Linked DNA regions of Homo sapiens: region 1 is linked to region 2. Evidence: fine-mapped expression QTL. A gene starts in region 2. The other region holds a variant in brackets. All regions are shown on one strand. Distances are between the middles of the regions. Region 1 has its middle 26 kb from the start of ARHGAP22. Region 2 holds the start of ARHGAP22 (Rho GTPase activating protein 22).

Region 1 (9,908 bases), 26 kb after region 2:
TCCTTCTGGGTCAGGTCAAACTCAGAGGAGGGAAGATCTGAATGTGCCTCAGCTTCCATGCTTCCAGGGATGATCTCTGCTCCACACATATCCAAACCCAGCCATCCCAGGACCCTAGCAAAGGAGTGTGTTTATATGTGCACAGGACTTAGCCCTATGACACCATTGTCACCTAGAACAGAAAGTGCTTCCCCAAATGCTCAGCTCACCACCAGCATATCTAGTCCCAAGAGAGACCTGGGCAAATCAACATCCAGTTCTCAAAAGCAGCCATGTCCCTTCTTTGGTAGACTGACTGTAAAAGTCTCCATGAGAGACATGTGGTCCCATCAACCCCATTTTTGGCCCAGCAGCGTGGATACTAGCATACTATTTGAAGCCTTGATATTATGCTGGTTTCTTACACTAACCCTATCCCACCCCTAAATCAGAGCCAATTATAAGAGAGACTCACCCAGGGGGCTTTCTTGATTTTGTCTTTTTCTTGTCCTGATTCCAGACCAGGAGCCCGGCATGGAAACTGGAGAGGTGTTGTCAAGAAACATGCTGAGTGTGAATTGTGAATTCTGATGTCCCCAGGGTCTTAATCTTGGGGACCTCATCAGGACCAAGGACATCTACCCCTCAGTGTCTTTGTGAAAACTTGTGAAAAACAGATGGAGCTTCTAGATGGTGCTGAAATCCAGTAAGCTGTTAATGGTGGCTGCTAGGAGGTGCTACATTGATATTTGTTAAGCATTTGCCTTCAGAATTGAAGCTCTGGCCACTGTTCCAGACCCATGGCACATTCGGAACTTCCTGAATATCCTGGCAGATATTCAACCCTTTCCCTCCATGTGCATTTGCTAATAACAAACTCTGCATGAAGCCCAATATCCAGCCCTGTGGAATGTGCCCTCGCAGGAGACAGAGCCGCCTGTCCCCAGGACACTCATGTGGAGGGTGTGGTACGATGGGAACTAGATATTTGATATTTGTACCAGGCATGAGCTCCTAAAACCCTGGGAATTTCCTGAGTAACAGAAGTGAGGGGAGCATTTTTGGTTATTCAGAGAAAGCCCCTTTCAAAGGCACCTGAGGCAAGGTTAAGGAGGTGACTGTGGGAGAGTGGGAACTGGCTGGGCATGGGGGTGAACCAGCCATGTGATTAGAGGGTTACAAGTTTCAGCCCTATCCTTGACCTCCAGGAAGGAGAGAGGAACTGGAGATTGAGTCCAATCACCAATGACCAATGATTTGATTAATCATGCCCACGTAACGAAGCCTCCATAAAAACCCCTAAATGATGGGGTTCAGGGAGCTTCCGGGTTGGTGAACACATGGAGGTTCTGGGAGCGGGTTGTGCATGAAGAGTGCATGGAAGCTCCATGCCCCTCCCTCTTCCCTGGCCCTACGCATTTCCTGCAGCAGGCTGTCCTGAGTTGTGTTCTTTGTCATTAACCTGCAAATGTCAGTAGTGTTTTCCTGAGTTTTGTGAGTCATTCTAGTGAATTATCAAACCTGAGGAGGGGTTGCAGGAATCTATTAATGCATAGCCAAGTAGGACGGAGTGTGGATGGCCTGGGCACCCATTTTCATCTGAAGTCGGGGAGGTCTTGTGGGACGGAGCCCTAACCAGTGTGGTCTGCACTAGCTCTGGAGAGCTAATGTCAGAATTGAAATGAATTGAATTGAATTGAACTGTTGGACACCCAGCTGGTATTGGAGAATCAGAGAGGGCAAGACAGGTGTCCAAGGATGTCTGTACTCACTCTAGGTTCAAGGCATGGTGGGCAGGGCCTGTCCCATTCCCATCTGGGCTAGCAGCCAGGACAGGGTTTGGGAGAGAGCCGGCGCTCCACACTGAGTGGGGACACAGGGCTGCACAGGGCAGGCCACTGGGAAGCTTGGCTCATGCCCACAGCATCTTGCTCTTCTGGTCAAGTTTTAGTTTCGAATTTCAGTCTCCTCTGATATTCCAAGGGCTTTATGAAAGATCCCAACTGATAATGTGAGGCATGCATTCTCAGGGCCCCTGGATGAGGGTCACTTTGGGCCCGGCCTCTGGTGTGGCTGGCTGAGGTGTGTGGGCACTTCATTCAGGCCACCAGGTGCTCTATTGGACAAGCTATGGGGTCTGGTGTGAGGCTGGCTTAGCCCAGAGGAAGGGGCATCTTTGTGATTTGTAGAAAGGTACTATCTATACTTTGGTTCCTTACCCTGCACAAGAGTTGCTTGAAGTATCAGTCCCAAGTAAAACGTATTAACACAGTGCTCTGAGACTCAAAGAAAGGAGGGCAATGGCCACAGCTGGCATCACAGGGACAGACATCTGGCCTCCTTCTCTTCCTTGCAGTGGGTGAGTGAGTCTATCTTGGGAGTCCTCAGGGTGTCTGACTGGCCACCCTCTGTTCAGGATGGCCCTGCCTTCCAGTTCTGCACTCACGCAGTCTCAGAACCAGCCCTGATGTGGCCAGGAGCATGCTGTGCCTGGTGGCAGGTCTACCATTAGTGCAGATGTTACAGTCCTTGTTTTAGCAGTTAACATTTGCTGAGCATCTACCAGGCACCTACCACACACCAGGCCCCAGTATCTTGATTCACACATATGGCCACCCAAAGATGTCTTGATAATTCTTATTTTAAGAGAAAAGTGAGGCTCAGAGCCAGTGTGTGCAAGGTCACTGGCTAGCAGATGGCTAAGTCTGCTGGGTTGAGTAACACCAGGTGGCTCCTGTCTGTTTCCATAGCAAGGATGTGGGCACAGATGTCCACCATATGCTGCTTGTATGATGGAGTTGACTGCCTGTTCTGTTGGCTCTACCCTACCACCTTGAGGCTCCAAACCACTCCATAGGTCCAGAAATCTGCTTTCAAGGCATTTGATTCCGCCTGGTGACTCCTGTTAGCAAATTTAAAGCATATGAACTTTTTGCAAGTTATCGAGTCATGGCCTTGACAATATAGTCAAAGTATATTAAACCAATAGGATTTCATCACAAAATGGACCTAAACACCTTCCCATTCCCCAGGTGGCCCCTTGGAGTCATCATCTTTGGTGCACATAGGACATGGGGCCACAGTGACATATCTTGCAGTAAGAGGAGCAAAGCTTGCCTTCCCATCCATCAACCTGGGGAGTCTGAGCTGAGAGAGGCCACCACCCTCAAGGTGCAGTGGTGGCCACTGCTGTGACTAAGGGAAGAACACAGTGCACAACCCTGACCAATGTGTCTGCTCCTTGGAGTTTATCTTGCAGGGAAAGGTGCATTCACAGCATTATGTGTAACAGTAAAAATCTAGAGACACCTGGAATGGGCTCTGTTGTGCTTCCCAGATGGCCCAGGACTAGCTCCCAGCTGCTAACACCCAGCCCTTTCAGCCTTTGCCTCCACTGGGAATTTCTCAGAGACACACTACCTTCCTAGGGGCAGCCACCACCAATGGCTGGTCATTATGGGGGCATAGAGGCCTGGTCTTCTTGCCCCAACTTAGGACAGCCTGGAAAGCCCAGCTAACCCTCAGAGCTAAGTATGGAGTCTACTGAGGCTGCTGTTGTGCCTGCATTGCAGTCTGATTTTGCCTTTTGCTCAGTCCTGCTTCCTGCCCTCTCCATGGGTGTCAATCCCAAGGTTTTCTAGATTTTTTCCTGTTTTCTTCTAGAAACTTCATATTTTGTATTTTTGTATTTAGGTCTACCATCCATTTTGAGTTGATTTTTGTAAAAAGTGTAAGGCCTATCCTTTCTCCATTGAATTACCTTGGCTCTCATCAAAGGTCAGTTAGCTACATTTGTGTGGGTCTATTTCTATTTCTCTATTTGATTCCATTCATCCACGTGTCTATCATTTTGCTCATATCACCATGTTTTGTTTACATGTTTATTTTAGAGTAAGTCTTGAATTTAGGTTGCATGCTTCCTTCATTTCTGTGTTGGTTATTCTAGATGTTTTGCCTTTCCATATAAATTTTAGAATCAGTGTGCCAATACCTATAAAATAGCTTGCTAGGATTTTGATTGAGAATTCACTGAATCTATATAGATCAATTTGGGAACAATTGACATTTAAATAATATGGAGTCTTCCAATCCGCAAACACAGAACAGCTCTCCATTTATTTCAATCTCTGATTTTTTTCCATCAATGTTTTGTGGTTTTCTGCAATAGATCCTATGCCTGTTTTGTTAATTTTATAACTAAATATTTCATTCTTTTGGTGCTATTTTAAATGACAGATTTGAAAAAAATTAATTTCAACTTTCAATTGTTCATTGCTGGTGTATGGAAAAGCAAAAAATAGCTTGCTAGGAGTTTGATTGGGATTGTACTGAGTCTATATACCAAGTTAGAAAGAAGTGACTTTTTTTTCTTTTTTCAGACGGAGTCTTGCTCTGTCACCAGGCTGGAGTGCAGTGGCGCTATCTCAGCTCACTGCAACCTCCACCTCCCTGGTTCAAGTGATTCTCCTGCCTCAGCCTCCTGACTAGCTGGGACTACAGGCCCCCGCCACCTCGCTCGGCTAATTTTTGTATTTTTAATAGAGATGGGGTTTCACCATGTTGGCCGGGATGTTCTCGATCTCTTGACTTGGTGATCCACCCACCTCAGCCTCCCAAAGCGCTGGGATTACAGGAATGAGCCACCACGCCCAGCCCAGAAATGACATCTTAACAATATTGAGTCTTCTAATCCATGACAGCGGAACATCTCTCCATTTATTTCGATTTTCTTAGATTTCATTAATCAAGAGTTTTATACTTTTCTGCATAAAGATTATGTACATATTCTGTTAGATTTATAGGTATTTCATTTTTATGCTAATGTAAATGGTATCGTGCTTTTATTTTCAAATTCCAGCTGTTCATTGTTGATATAAAAAAGGCATTGACTTTTGGATATTAACCTTATATCCTGTGACTTGCTATAATCACTTATAAGTTGCAAGAGTTTTTTCCATCAATTTTATGGAATTTTCTGCATAGACAATCCTGTCTTCTGTGAAAAAAGGCAATTTTATTTCTTCCTCCATTCTGTATATATATGGCTTCCTTCTCTTGTCTTACTGCATTTGCTAGGACTTCCAGTACAATGTTGAATAAGTGTGGTGAATTGCCTTGTTCCCAACATAGTGGGAGAACATCTAGTTTCTCACAATTAAGTATACATTTTGCTGTAGGGTTTTTGTGGATGTCCTTTATCAAGTTGAGGAAGTTACCTCTA[A/T]TTCTAGTTTGCTAAAAGTTTTTATCATGAATGAGTGTTGGATTTTGTCAAATGTTTTTTCTGCATTAATTCATATGATCATATGATTTTTCTTCTTTAGCCTGTTGATGTGGTGGGTTACCACATTGTTTATCACATATTAACTACCACATAATAGTTTTTTGAGTGTTCAATCAGCCTTCCATATCTGGAATAAACTCCACTTGGTTGTGGTATATAATTCTTTTTATACATTATTGGATTCAATTTGCTAATATTTCATTAAGGACTTGTTTACATCTATATTCATAAAAGATACTGATGTGTAGCTTTTCTTTCTTGTCTTTATCTGGTTTGGGTATTAGGGTGCTGTTAGCCTCACAGAATGAGTTAGAAACTGTTACCTCCATTTTTATATTCTGGAAGATACTGTAGAGAATTTATCTAATTTCTTCCTTAAGTGTTTGGTAGAATACACCAGTGAAACCATTTGAGAACTAGTGCTTACTTTGTTGGAAAATTGTCATTTATTTAACTTCTTTAATAGTTATAAGCCAATTAAAATGATATATTTCTCCTTGGGATATCAATTATACTTCTTAAAAATATTTTCTTGTTGCAGTAGATTTTGCAATATATATTTACAGCTAATCTGAGTCCACTCTCAAATAACACTACTACTTAAAAAATAGTACAGGTTCCTTATATCAGTATTCCCAGTTCCTCCATCCTGTTCCTTATAATATTACTGACATTCACTTTGGTTATCTACGTGTTATAATCACCCTACATATTGTTGCTATTGTTACTTGGACAAACAGTTACCTGTTAGATCCATTAAGCATGAGAAAAATGAAGACTTTGTTTTACTTTCATTTATTCCTTCTCTGATGCTCTTTCTTTATGTAGATCTGAGTTTCTCACCCATCATTTTCTTTCTCTCTTTTAACATTTCTTGTAGGACAAGCAATGAATACTCTTGGTTTTTGTTTGTCTGGGAAAGTCTTTATTTAGTCTCACTTTTTTTTACAATGAAAATTATTTTTCTATTTCAATACTTTTGGGGTACAGGTGGTTTTGGTTACATGGATGAATTCTATAGTGGGGAATTCTGAGATTTCAGTGCACCTGTCACTCGAGCAGTGTACACTGTACCCAATATGTAGTCTTTGGTCCCTCAACCTCCTCCCAACCTTCCCCACGAGTCCTCAAAGTCCATTATATAATTCTTACGCCTTTGCATCCTCATAACTTAGCTCCCACTTACAAGTGAGAACATATGATATTTGCTTTTCCATTCCTGAGTTACTTCACTTAGAATAATGGCCTCCAGCTCCATCCAAGTTGCTGCAAAAGACATTATTTCATTCCTTTCTATTAGCCTTCACTTTTGAAGAAAAATTCCAGTAGTTATGCAATCCTATGTTGGTAGGGAGTTTTATTGCAGCAGTTTTAATGTACAAACTATTCAACATATTTTTTTTTCAACAGTTGAAATATTTCCCTTCACTCTCCACTTGCTTGCATGACTTCTGTTGTGAAGTCTGATATAATTCCTATCCTTGTTCTTCTAAAGGAAAGGTGATCCCCATACCCCTGGCTTCTTTCAAGATTTTCTCTGTCTTTTGTTTTCTGCATTTTGAATGTGAGACACCTAAGATGTGTATATTTTTTGTTTTTATCCTGCTTAGGTCTGTGGTTTGTTTTCTGTCACTGCCTGGAGTTGGCCAACTCCAAGTTTAGAGTGCACACAGGTCTTCACAAGACCAGCCTCACTTCCAACACCAACTGCAAATTGGGGGGTGTTCCCAAAACCACCCAGGCTAGGAGCTGTGCCGTCTTTAATATTTGCTGTGTCTGCAGATGCCAGAGCGAAATCATTGATTTTAAGTTTGCACAGATTTTACCTTGTTGTAAGGATGAGAGTGAAAATGTCTAAGCTTTTCACATGTCAAAGATGAAACCAGAAGCCAGAGTCTTTCCATTTTCATCACTACTGCACAACGCTGACTATTCTTTTCCTTCATCTACCCCTGGAAGATCCTGAGTCACCTGCCAGAGGACATCACCTGCCACACGGAGGACATCAGTGGACAGTTCCCTCAGGCCTTTCCATTGGATGATATGAGAAGAGCATGAGCTCCAGAAGGTAAGAGTTTTTGCCAATTATGTTGCCTGCTGTATTCCAGTGCCTAGAGCAGTGCCTGGCACAACTCATGTTTGCTGGGTGACTGAATAAATTATCAACCCTTAGGAAACTTTTGAGATCATTTCCCAGGCCTGTCCACCTTTAATGGCCCCAGTCAGCTCTCATTTCTGCAGACAATCTACCTTCCTCTGAGACTCCCAGGTCTGAGGTTTGCAGTGACTGCATGCTGGAGAAGTAAAACTGGGAGAAAGCTCCAAATGTAGGGTTCCTGTGTCCAGAGTCTCCATCATATCACTTGGTTTTCAAAAAATTCCCAAAGGAAACAATTCTCAGCCAGAGATTAACAGTGGCATCTGATTGTTTGTCTGGAAGGGAGTTCCCACTTATTCAGGGTTTACCCTGTGCCTTTCCTTGAACTCTTTTCTTTTAATTAGACATGTAATCCTTATTACAGTCTTGTGAGATATGGCCTATTGTGGTCTCACTTTTACAATGAGGAAATGAAGCAGAGAGATTATATCACTTGAGTAAGGGCATAGAGTAAGCAGGTGGTAGAACCTGGATCCACACCCAGGCCTGGCTTTCTCTAGACTGTTTTTACATTTTGTGGGAAAATGATGCCAGCAGCAGGGAGGGAGGGCTGGCTTTCCCTGTGGACTTTCCACAAGAAAATCCCTGTTGACATCCATCTGCAGAAGGAGATGGGCAGGTTAATAGAGACAGGATCATTCCACGGGGCTAAGAGGAGGAGGGAGCAGAGGGCTGGGCATGGGAGGAGGGAGAGCCTTTCCTAACTGAATGCTGGGCCAAGCTGGCTGCGGGATGCCCTGACTCCTGGAAATCTCTGGGGCAGGTGTCTGAGAGTTGACACCATGGGCATCTATGCCCTATGTTCTCCCTCACCTTCTTCCTGGCCACCAGGATGCTGCTTCCTCCCACGCTTGTTTCTATGATAACTGGCAGGAAGTGTTATCTGCTAGCCAGCTCACCTGTTGAGAGAAGCCAGTTTGCACTAGTAGCTCAGTAGTATCATGGGTAGCTGAATGGGTACTTTCAGATTTGGGTGGCGGATTTGATGGGAGCAGCCAAAAGGTGCCATCAATGTCCCTAAAAGCAGAGGTACTGCTGTGAGTGAGCACTAAAGATGGGTCAGCTCAGATCTGGGTTGAGTCCTGTCTGCCACTAACTAGCTGTGAGCTTTTGGCAAGTCAGTAAACTTCAGATCTTCTGCTTCCTCATCTAGCCAACAGGGAAAAGTGCTCTGCCCCCACAGAGCTGGGCCATAGGAGAGGATAAGCTGCTGGGTGCAGAGGGCGGTGAGCCTGCACTGTGGTTTGCCCATTTCACAACCATTCCCAGAGTCAAATCATTTCTCCCAGATGTGCAGAAACAGAAACCATTGTAGGAAACTGGGTCTCTAAGAAGAGCCGCTGACTCAGCCCTTATTTGGTTCTGTGGCTGGGGGTGGGTGAGCCTGGGCTTCCGCTTGGCTCCCTAGAGGGTAGTGTGGCTGGCAGGGCATCTGTCTAGACACTCTCTGAGGCTCTGCCCAGCCTGTTCTTTGGAATAGACTCTCCTCTGCTTCTCAGGGCTGACAGCTCTGAGCCCAGGAAAGCAAGAGGGCTGAATTGTGTCCCCCGACTCCAGTTCATGATGAAGCCTAACCCCCACCGCCCCATACAGAAAGTGGCTGTATTTGGAGATAGGGCCTTTAAATATCAAAGTTAAAATGAGTGATTAAGTTAAAATGAGGTCATTAGGGTGGGCCCTAGTCCAATATGACTAGAGTTCTTATAAGCAGAGGAGATAAGGACACAGATACCAACTGTGTGAAGACACAGGAAGAAGGTGATATTTACAAGCCAAGGAGAGAGGAGAAAGAAGCTTGCTAACACATTGATCTTAGACTTCCAGCCTCCAGAATGGGAAAAAATACATGTATGTTGTGAAAGCCCTGGGGCCCGAGGTGCTTTGTCATGGCAGCCCGAGCAGACTCATGTACCTGCCCTCCCTCTTCCTCAGTGTGAACAAGGGAATTCCAGCACCCATGGGAGGCTCTTGGAGGCTAGGCTCCTTCTGGGTCCACCGTGAATGAAGCACTTCACCTTGTTTCTGGGCCTCTGTCTCTTGTTGCCCCCACCCCCACTTCTGCACTGGGCCTGGTGTTTCCCTGGACCCCGACTCCCTGTCTCCTCAGGCATGACTAGTTTCATACTCCTCCAAGGTTGGTAAGAGAAAAATGCCTGGGGTTTAGGTTATAGCTTGAAGCACAGCTTTGGGTGCTCCGTAACTTGTCCCAGCCCCTTGGCCAGCTCCAAGTTCAGCCACAGCTGTGGTGAAACGTCCCCTCTTAGGTGAGCCCACTGATGGCTTCCCGCTCCAGGCTCTCAGCCCTCGGCTTTCTCTGAAGCCACAGGGACCCTAAGCCCTGGGCAAACAAATGCAGTCCAGAAGGGCTGGGTGTCCACACCCCTGGGGTTGCCCTCAGCCAAGGGAGAAAGGGGGCCGGGTAACCCCCACCCTCTCCCCTTCCAGGCTTATGGCAGGTGAGTCTGCACTCTTCCCAGAGTCCCTGTGGAA
Region 2 (9,908 bases):
TTGAGCATTTTACTTATATTATTCTGCCTCTGTTTTCTCCCTTGTCTCACAGAGTTGGTGTAAAGATTAAAATAGGACATTTGCATGTAATGGAAGGTCCAGCTTGCATCTGGCACATTCTAAACACTCAACAGAGATTCTCTCACTTTCCTTCCTTCCTTAAAGAGGAAAGTGGAAGGACTGTTTGTGGCCTTTAATGTATTAACAGTGGAAAGTCATATCCTTGATTGCATTTATATAAAATTGAAGAATAGGTGAGATCACTCTAGGGTGCTAGAAATCAGAAAAGTGTCACTCTGGTTGGGAGACGAGCCAGGGTGACTGGGAAGACACAGGAGAAAACTTTCTGGGCTTAAGGAAAATGCTTTATATCTTGATCTTCAGGCTGGTCACTGAGAGAACACTTAAGATTTGTGCATTTTACTCTGTAAATTATGCCTCAATAAGAAAATGTTAAAAATTTTAGAAATAAACAATGAAAATCCCAGAGGAGTATTCAAAAAAAAAAAAAATCAGGCTGCAGTGTGATTTGAGGCCACTCTTGTTCAAAGATCCCCAAATTGCAAACTTTTATTTCCTCGAATCAGGTTCCCCAGGGTTTGTCCTGGACCCTTTGCTGATCTGAGGGCCTCTGCAACTTCATTTCACTTCTGAGCAAATTTTTAGAATGGACTGACAAGAGACAGCTTGGTTCTCTCCATGGGGTGGAGTACCTGGCTAGTGGCAGAGGATGTCCAGGCTTGGGCACCTCTGCTGTCACGGAAGGTTATCAGCTACAAACAGTGGTGCCAGGGCCTGGCCTGGAAGTAGAGACTGCTGGGTGATTCCCTTTGGTCCTCCTTCTCCAGAGCAGGCTCTTCTGAGGCCTCTAGTCCCTGGCTAAGCTCCAGCCCACAGCCTGGATGCACCCTTCCATGAGCAGTTCTAATACGCCCCTTCTTCAGCATATCTTACTGACCATTCTGCTAGACCTCTGTCCTCTCTCTGAATCAGGCAAAGCCAGATGCTGTGTCACCTAATTAGGTGACTGTTCCTTAGCTGCTTCACTCTCAGAGCCATGAAGGTGGTGAGAGTCATAGGGAGCCATCATGGTACCTGACAAACCTGGGCAGGGGCATCACAGCATCGCCAAGGGCACATCCTGGGAGCCACAACATTCATAACTAAGCAATCCCAGGAGGCCTGCTAACCCTATGAGTGTCCCTGAAGGGCAGAATCTTCCAGGGCTCTGAAGGATCCCCCAGTCTGAGCAGGTATGAGGTCAGTTGACCTCTGGGCTGTGATTCCCTAACCACTTTTCAAGTAGTCCTGCAGCCTTGGGGCAAAACCCAGGAGTGTCCTATCCCTTTACTTCCATTCCCCACCCCACAGAGGCAGCCACTTTCAACATTTGTCATTGGTTCTTTTGGTATTACTTCTATGTTTCCAGATAGTATTTATTTATTACCACTTCTTGATTTTTTCCTTTTAAGTGTTATTTATTAACTTCTTACTATAGAAGATGAAGATTTTGTTTCTTTTACACCCTTTCCCCCCACCATCCATAAGCACCCACTCCACCCTCCCAATTAGTTATATTAAAATTTTGGTTAGATTAACAACAGAATTTCCATTATTAGCACCGTTTAATTGCTAGTCCCACTTGAGGTATGTTATATATGATAATAATTTTTCTTTCATGAATCACTTTTGTTTTCTGTGGAGTTCATAATTGCCTTGTTTTTTATTTGCTTAGTTTTCTGCTAGGTATCAATAATCCAACCTCAAACATTCTATGAGTTGTCTAGATCTAATCTCCATGTGTTTAGATGCACCTTCTTAAAAATATCATTGCATTTTATCACTGAAATAATCTACAGCTCTCATGGAGATGTACAGGGCCAGGTGCAGAGGTCTTCAGATAGTGTTGGGTTAGAGAGAAGGCAGAGGCCTTAGCATTGGACAGACAAATTTAGATCCCACATTTATTGGCTGGGCGACCATGATTCTTCTACATCTGTCAAAATGGTAACAATGATATCACATTATAGTGTAGTCATGAGAATTAAATGAGGTACAACAAAAGTGCCTGGAGCATGGGTGCACAATAAATGTTGGTTTACTTTCTTGTGGGACAATCACAAGAATAAGGCCATTGAAGGTACTTCATCATATTAATAGAGCTTTCTCTCCCCACCCCCAAAGTATTGACCAGGCTCTGAACATTCATCAAGGCTCCTGAGACATTGACACTCCTGCTACAGGAGATGGTTAAAGCTCCTATAACTTGGCCCATCAGTCTGATGATTTCCTTTAAAAGAAGGAGCCTCCTTAATAGCATCAACAATTTTATTTTGAAATATTGCAAACAAAGACAGAAATTCTAAAAGGAAAATATATACGAGTTAAAAACAGGTACATCTAGAAAAAAAACCCACTCTAATATAAAAATAAAGGGCAAGCAACAAATTGGGAAAATATTTGCAACATATGAGTCAGTGAAAGATGAGGCCAAATTTCCTAAGTACCGGGCCAGCTTGGGTAGAGACAGTGCTCCAGCCACCCAGGCAAATGCTTTCTCCTCTATCCAGCTATTCATCCACTCACTCAAAAAACACAGGTTGAGTGTCCACCAGGTACCTGGCATTGGGGGTATAATGATGTCCCCGAACAGAAATGGTTCCTGCTTTCACGAAGCTCATGGAGCAATGCAAGTGACAGATATTCACCAATCAGTCACACTCAGGAGTATACAACTGCAACCTATGGTAAATACCATAAAGAAAAGGAGAGATGGAGCAGAGGATCCAGCCTGGACTGGGGTGTGTGGGAAGACTTCCCTGGCTGGCAACACTTGAACTATACTATAACTGGAGGGTGAATAGGAATTAAGGTGTGTGTGTATGTTTGTATGCATGAACGCATGTGCACACACATACAGGCATGCATGTGCGCACATGTGAATGTGGGAGGCATTTCAGGGGAAAGAACGATGTGCAAAAGCCCTATGGTGGAAGCCTCATGGAACACTGAGGACTGGAAGAGGGCTGTATGGCTGGCCTATACGCACTAGATGCCAGTAGCACCCCTCAGTTGGAATAACCAAAAATACTCCAAACAATGCCAAATGTTCTCTAGTGGGGCAAATTGCTCCTGGTTGAGAACCATTGACTTAAAACAAACATTTATGAGAAATCCTGGATTTCAAAGACAGGCTGCCTGTAAGCCCCTTTGCTGAAGCACTGGTCTCTTACTAGCACTGTCCAATAGAAATATAAAAAATATAATATGAGTCACATATGTACTTGTAAATGTTCTAGTAGCTATAGTAAAAGAATGTAAAACAGGTAAAATTAGTTTTAATAATAGATTTTATTTAACCCAATATATCCAAAATACTGTCATTTCAGTAAAATAATTATTAATGAGATATTGTACATTCTTTTTTTGTACTAAATCATCAAAATTTGGTGTGTCTTTTTCTCAATTTGGACTAGTGACATGCCAAGTGCTTAGTAGCCACATGTGGCCAGTGGCCAGCTCATTACACAGGAGTGGGAGGGTGGAACTAAGCTCTCGCAGAGGTATCTGGCTTGTCCTATCCCTTGGGTCATCACTAGACTTGCCCCCTCCTCAGCAGAGCCATGCAAGTTCCTCCTTTGCCCATTGGGGTACACAGGGTTCAGCCCATGCGAAAGCACCCCACAGAGGGGTCCTGACGTCTGTGGAACACACTGGAAGGCTGGTCCCATCCAGGAAAATCATCCAAGTGCTTGCAGTGTGCTAATAAGATGGGTGTGTTCCCTGTGAATCCACAGGAGGCTGGAGGCCCCCCGCTGCAAACACCTGGTGAGACACAAACTGTTTCCAAGCTCCCAGGCAAATGCTCCATCCACCTCCAAAGACCCATCCTCCACTTCATTGTTTACAAAAGGAGCTCAGCCCTCCCAGATACTGGCCACCTGAAAAGACACATTCTATTTTTGTAAAAGACAGATGTTCTCATTCAAAATGACACTTTCCGTGGCTAAGAAGTTGTTGTCCATGGAGATGCTGTCTCTAGCCCCATACAGTGGCCAAGTCTTCAGGTCACTGTGCTGGGTCGCTGGCTGGACACAGGCTGGCTAGCCCAGTCCTGGACTCTCCTGACCCCCATCTCTTGCTGGTCTGAGTCTGCTCCCGCATCCACCCGTCCTGCCCCCAGACCCTGCAGCTTTCTGAGTGTTCTGGCAGGAAAGCCTGCCTGCCCCTGGCCTGCTTGAGGAAATACTGTCTGCAAAGCAGCGGGAACGAAGACCCTCGCTTGCACCCAGCTGTCTCTAGAAGCCAGGGCATGGCCTTCCCTGGTAAGGGGTGCTTCTGTGTTGGCCACAGGGCAAATCTTGGGCATTTCCTTTTTAGTAAAGAAGCAAAGTTTCCTTAAAGTTGCCACCAGGTCACCTGGAGCGACCGAGGGCCTCTGTAAAATGTGGAATGTGGGGCGAAGTGTGCACACCCACTGGGGCACTAAGCCGGCCACCGCCCTTTTGCAACTTCAGGTCGTGTCCCCACCCAGCCCAGGAGTTTCACGAGGAAGGGCACTTCCTCAGGAGGATGCTCACTATTCAGCGGCAATGGTCCCAGAACGCCCGCCCCATGTGACACATGGCGTGACGGCTGGCCAAGTGTCCGCGCACGTTTGCCAAGAGGCACATGCGGTGCCCAGAGAAACCCCAGAAAGTTGGACTTACCCCTCCTGGCCTGCCTGATCTTTGGGCTCAGCATGTTCTTGCAGCCGTCCGGCCAGCCCCGCAGGGCCGTTCATGCTGTCATCCACTTGCTTTTGCTCGTCCTCGCGCCTAGTCGCCCCTCATGTCCTGCTCGTTCGGGGCCCCGTGGCCGCTGGCGTCACCCGTCAGGCTCCCTCGGCTACCTCTCCTGGCTCCGGACGGACGGCTCGCCTTGGACTACATAAACCTCGATGCATTATTTATCCATCCCAGAATTAATTCCCATCCAAGCGGACCATTAAAGCCTCAGTAATCACTGCTGATCAATCACTGGACCAGGGCGGGGCAGTCCCTCCGCCTGGCCTGGGCGCACGCGTGGCTGTCCAAGCTGAGCGCGGGGGCGGGGCGGGGCCGAGAGGGGCGGGGCCAGCCAGAGACGCGGGGCGCGGTCCTGGCCCGGGAGAGGGTACTGGGGTTCCGGCCATCCTTTGCTGAGGCTGGAAGAAATGCGCCTTTCAGCCGCCGCCTGGGAGCCGCACTCCCTGCCAAGCCCGGGTGGGATAGCGCTTTGGTGAGAAGGTAGCCGAGACCCCCCCCCCACCCCAGAGCCCAATCCACGGGGACCCGCTTATGAGCTCACTGTTTTACGTGTTGAAAGTCAGGTGTGTCTGGGAAGGAGCAAGCAGCCCGGCAATGTAAACTCCTCAGGAGACTCCCAACAGGAAGATGCCTGTTAGGGATACTATTTATGCCTCTTTAGTAAGGTGACAGGAATAAGAGGGCAGGAAGCACTTAACTCAGGGCTCTTCATAGGAAGATCTGAATTGAATAGTGAATCTCTGCTAATTGCCATGTTTCTGTTTGATGCTGGCATAATTTTAAAGGGTGTATACTGGGGCTTTGTGAGGAGCGGAATCCAGCCTCAAGATGCTAAAAATTACCCAAGGAATGCAATCATAACAATAGCTATCATTTATTAGGCACCTACTATGTGTCAGGCACTGAGGCTGGTGCTTTACATTCAATATCTCATTTAACTCTCAAACTCCTGAAGCAGGTGCTATATATATAGCGTTTCAAATCTGGAAAATAAGGCACAGCAAGGTTGAATCACCTGCCCAAAGTCATACAGTACCGAGCAGCAGGGCGGGCACCAGAACCCAGGGCTGTGTCTACAGCTCCTGCTGCTCTGTGATGCCAGCCTCTCCACCCTATTCCCATCACTGCATGGTAACAGCTCCTGGCTTGAGCCCCCGATGAACTTGCTGAACGGTGACCTGCCTCTGTGCCCCTGATAATCACTCCGTGTATCCTCTTAGGCATCTGAGCTTGGGTCTGGCTATTTGGGCCTGAGAACTGTGTGACCCTTTCAGTAGCTGGTAAAGAGGGATTTGAACAATGCCCTCCCCTGCTCAGATGGCCATAGCCTCCATCTGACCCTCCACACTCCCTCGAGTGCCCCATGTCCACAGATCCCCAAGTGTCCTATTGGTATGTAATCAACTTTAGCAGCTGTAGAGGGAGAGAGCCCACCAGGAGATCACTGTGGCAGTCCTCCCTAGGGAACAGTGTGCCCTATGGAGAGGGGAGGACTGCAGAGTAAGAAGAAAGACTCACCAGGATGTGGTGAGCCACATGGCCAAGCTGGTGGGAGAAGGTAGAGTCCATGGACACAAAGCTGTCTTACTCAGCATCAAGTCACTTGTTCTGGTCTTCAGCTACTCCTCAGAGGGATGAATGAGTACCTTGGCATAACATTCCAGGTTCTTTCATGGTAGCATCCATGGACTCCTCTCTGACCTATCTCTTGCCGATGCTCTATACAACCATATGCACATACAGCGCCTGCTCCTGTGTGCCCCAGTGACTTTGCACATGCCTTGCTCCTGTGTGTTCCTGTTCTTGCATGTGCAGCCCCTGCTCTCCTGTGCCTCTGTGTTTTTGCACATGTAGCTGTGTCTTTGCACGTGCAGTTCCCTCTCTCTGGAATGCCCTTCCTCACATTGCCTTGTCCTCTTTGGGCAATTCCCCAATGAAATTCTCCTGATTCCACCAGCAGAATGAGCCACTAAGCACTTCCCCTGGGCCCTTATCTATGTCCCTGTACTGCCCCTCTTGTACGCCCTCCCTGAGCCCCAGGCTGACTCAGGCCAGAAGCCTCACAGGAAACTCTGGCTTCATGGGCAGATCCAAGAAACACCACTGAATGACAGAACTGACCTCCTTTTCCTTTAAGGCCAGGTACAAGCCCTGGTTGGGACAGGGGCCACCCATGAGGAGTGGGGAGAATATCAAGCTAGAAAATCTCATGTCGACACCAGGGTCACAGGGCAAGTCCTGTGGCTTGTGACAATGTCTTGAGCAATCAGGAAGCCATTTGTGAGTAATGCAGCCTGGACCACTTCATCCAAGTCAGAGGCAAGGAAATGCCCTGAGACTTAGTCTGGGTCCACTCACGCTTGTTTTGGTTAAGAAACCACCCCCAGGCGCTTTTCCTGTGCAGCTGTTTTCCCTGATGATATTAAGTCACTGTGTTCACTCGCCTGCTTTTCTGGGGATCAGAGCTGGGCTCACACCCCAGAAGTCAGGCTGGGAAAAGGGCAGGAGTTGATCTACGTTCTGCGTCTGAGAAGGCTGGGGGAATGGGGCAGGTGGGCAAAGTAGCTCTTTTCTCCTCTCCAACCTCAGACTGTGCTCTCAGTACTTCCTGAGATGAAGGGTCCACAGAGGCAGGAATTGGAGCCCCTTCATCCTGAAGTTTACCAGCCCTGATCTGCAGGGCCCTGGGAGCCTCCCACTTCCTCTGGGGTGGCCTGTGGGAGGATGGAGTGGGGACAAGGGCAGGGCAAGGGGATCTGTTGAACATGTGACCTCCTATAAGCTTTTATTTGAAGAACCAGCCCTACTCTTCTCACTTATAAGTGGGACACCCAGACCAAGGAGTGGGAGATACAGGTCTAGCTTAGCAGCGGAGACAGATGCCTCCTTCTCCACTGCCCTGTGCCTGCCTGCACGGTGCTGCCCCTTTCCAGCAGTGGTCCTAGGTCTGCCTTCACCTGGCTTCCTGCCTTGAATCATTCAGTATTTTCTAAGGGCTGTTCAGGGACAGAAGCTGAGCACTGAATGGACAGAAGTCTCCGGAAGGCAGAAGGCATCTATTGAAATGCACACCTGTTGGTGGGATGGCTGCCAATCAGCATCAACTGGCCCAGAGCCAGGATACCTTCAAAACAGTAGTTCCTAACCTTGGCTGCACATTAGGGAGCTCTGACAGTGAATTCCTGTGTCCCACCCCCAGTGGCTCTGATTTAACTAGTCTGCAGTGTTTATTGTCATTGGGAGTTGTAAAAGCTCCTCTAGGGATTCAGCCAGGGTTGAGAACCACAGCTTTAGAAGACAACTGCACATGGGGTGTTTGCTGGCTGCCATCCTAAGGGAGATTCTTCTCAGGGAGAGGCACATCTGCGAATAAATCTCCTGGTCAGAAAGTGGAAAGGGCATCTGTCCCAAGCCCCAACTTGAGACAACTCCACCCAGAGCCACAGGTGCTGTTGGATGGTCTGTGCACTGCTCAAAGGTGTCCAGTAGAGGGAGGTAAGGAGGCTGAATTTGGGCTCCATTGGCAAAGCCCTGTGTTCCAGCACAGGGAGGTGGGGAGGTGTGCAGCTAGAGGAGGGAGCTTTCCTCTAATTTGCACAAAGGCGACATATAGATAGCAAAGCCCTGCTTCCCCTGTTCCAGAAGCTGCATGGAGGACCAGAGTAAGCCCTTCTGGAGGCAGAGGAGAGAAACAATGCTACTCTGGCTTTGTGATGCCTGCCCAGGGGTCACCAGCACCTGGGTCCCCAGCCTGCCTGCTTAGTGCACTCTCTGTTCCTGCTGCCAGGAGGTCGATGCCGCAGCTCCCTTGCATGTCACTCAAGGTCTTCATGGGCAGCTCCCACCCTCATACTTTGGTTTCTCCTTCTGTCTATCCCAGTAGTGGGCCGGACCAGCTGGAGAGTACCAATGACATAACTGATTGTTAAATTTTCAGGAGTTTTGTAAGCCAGTTGTTTAGCAAGAACATCATTAGAAATTAATGTATATAAACTTATAATTAAATAAACTATTTAAGACAAAGGTAACAAGCACTAAAAACTCATAATTTCCAAATCATTTTACTACATTTTATTATTCTTCAGGTAATTGACATCTATTGTTTCTACATGGTGGATAATATATACTGGGTTGCTGCCATGCATCTCTTCTCAACTCTAATGTTCAATGACATCATGCTGGTAGTTTGAAATTGAATGTTGTGGGAGTATTTACACCAAGAAAACTAGCAAATGCAGTAAATCAGAGCTTAGATGTCTTGTTTTGTTTTGTTTTTCTTCTACAGAGCTGGTTGTTAAGCATTTGTCAGCACACCTCTGGCCCATTTCCACCACATTCACTCTGTCTGCCCCAGTCACTGTAGACTCCCTGTTCTAGGCAGAGGATGCCAGCTCTCCACCTGAATCTGTTCTCCCCTTCTTCCTGGGAACACACAGATGTTCTACATTTCCAGCATCCTTGCAGTTAGGTGTGACTGCATCCTGGCCATTATACATGAGCAGAAGTGATGTGGTTACTTCTAGGCCTGGCTTCCAGGATTCCTTCTCTTGCTACCCTTCTAAGCTCATTTCCCTTTTCTGGTTGATTGGGATGGGACCACTTTGGAATTCCCATGTAGAATATGGTAGAATCCCTGCAGTCTGGGGCTCTGAATGACTGCATGGAGCCAAGCCCTCACTGTCAACCTGGAAGTATCTTGAGAGAAAGAGAAATTAACTTATACTGTATTGAGTCATTTCATAGTTGGTCCTCTTCATTACTATAGCCGACATTCTCACTGGGTACACACTCCACTCTGCCTGCCCTTTTTTGCCTCTTGAACTTTGATGCATCCCTCTGGACCTTGTTCCAGCACCACCTCCTCACTCAGTGCTGTATGGAGTTCGGCACCTTTAACATTTCCCATTTCTTCCATGCCCAAGGCCACGGGGACCTTCTACAAGGCCTGTTGCGAGATCTTTAGAGGAGTACGAGTTTTTCCTGCCCCCTCACCCATAATTTAAATATCATCTATATACGAAACCTATCATATGCTGAATTAAAAAAATTCTTCCTAGATTTTTAAATTGGGAAACTGTGGGATTCATCAAAGGTGAACTTTTGCTCCACTTTGGTGGCCTT

What was found.
Region 1: its variant is fine-mapped to the expression of ARHGAP22 in whole blood (INTERVAL, PIP above 0.99).

The regions. Positions count from the first base shown.
Region 1 is chr10:48,625,756-48,635,663 of GRCh38, forward strand. It overlaps a transcript of ARHGAP22 not described here. Among named protein-coding and RNA genes, the nearest start is that of ARHGAP22, 26 kb to the left of the region's middle. The variant A/T (reference allele first, on the strand shown) is at 5,201.
Region 2 is chr10:48,600,054-48,609,961 of GRCh38, forward strand. It overlaps ARHGAP22 (Rho GTPase activating protein 22), which reads right to left and starts at 5,020. Exons shown (of 10, transcript NM_021226.4): 1 at 4,710-5,020. The coding sequence starts at 4,743. RefSeq lists enhancers at 4,441-5,171, 8,138-8,197 and a silencer at 5,028-5,187.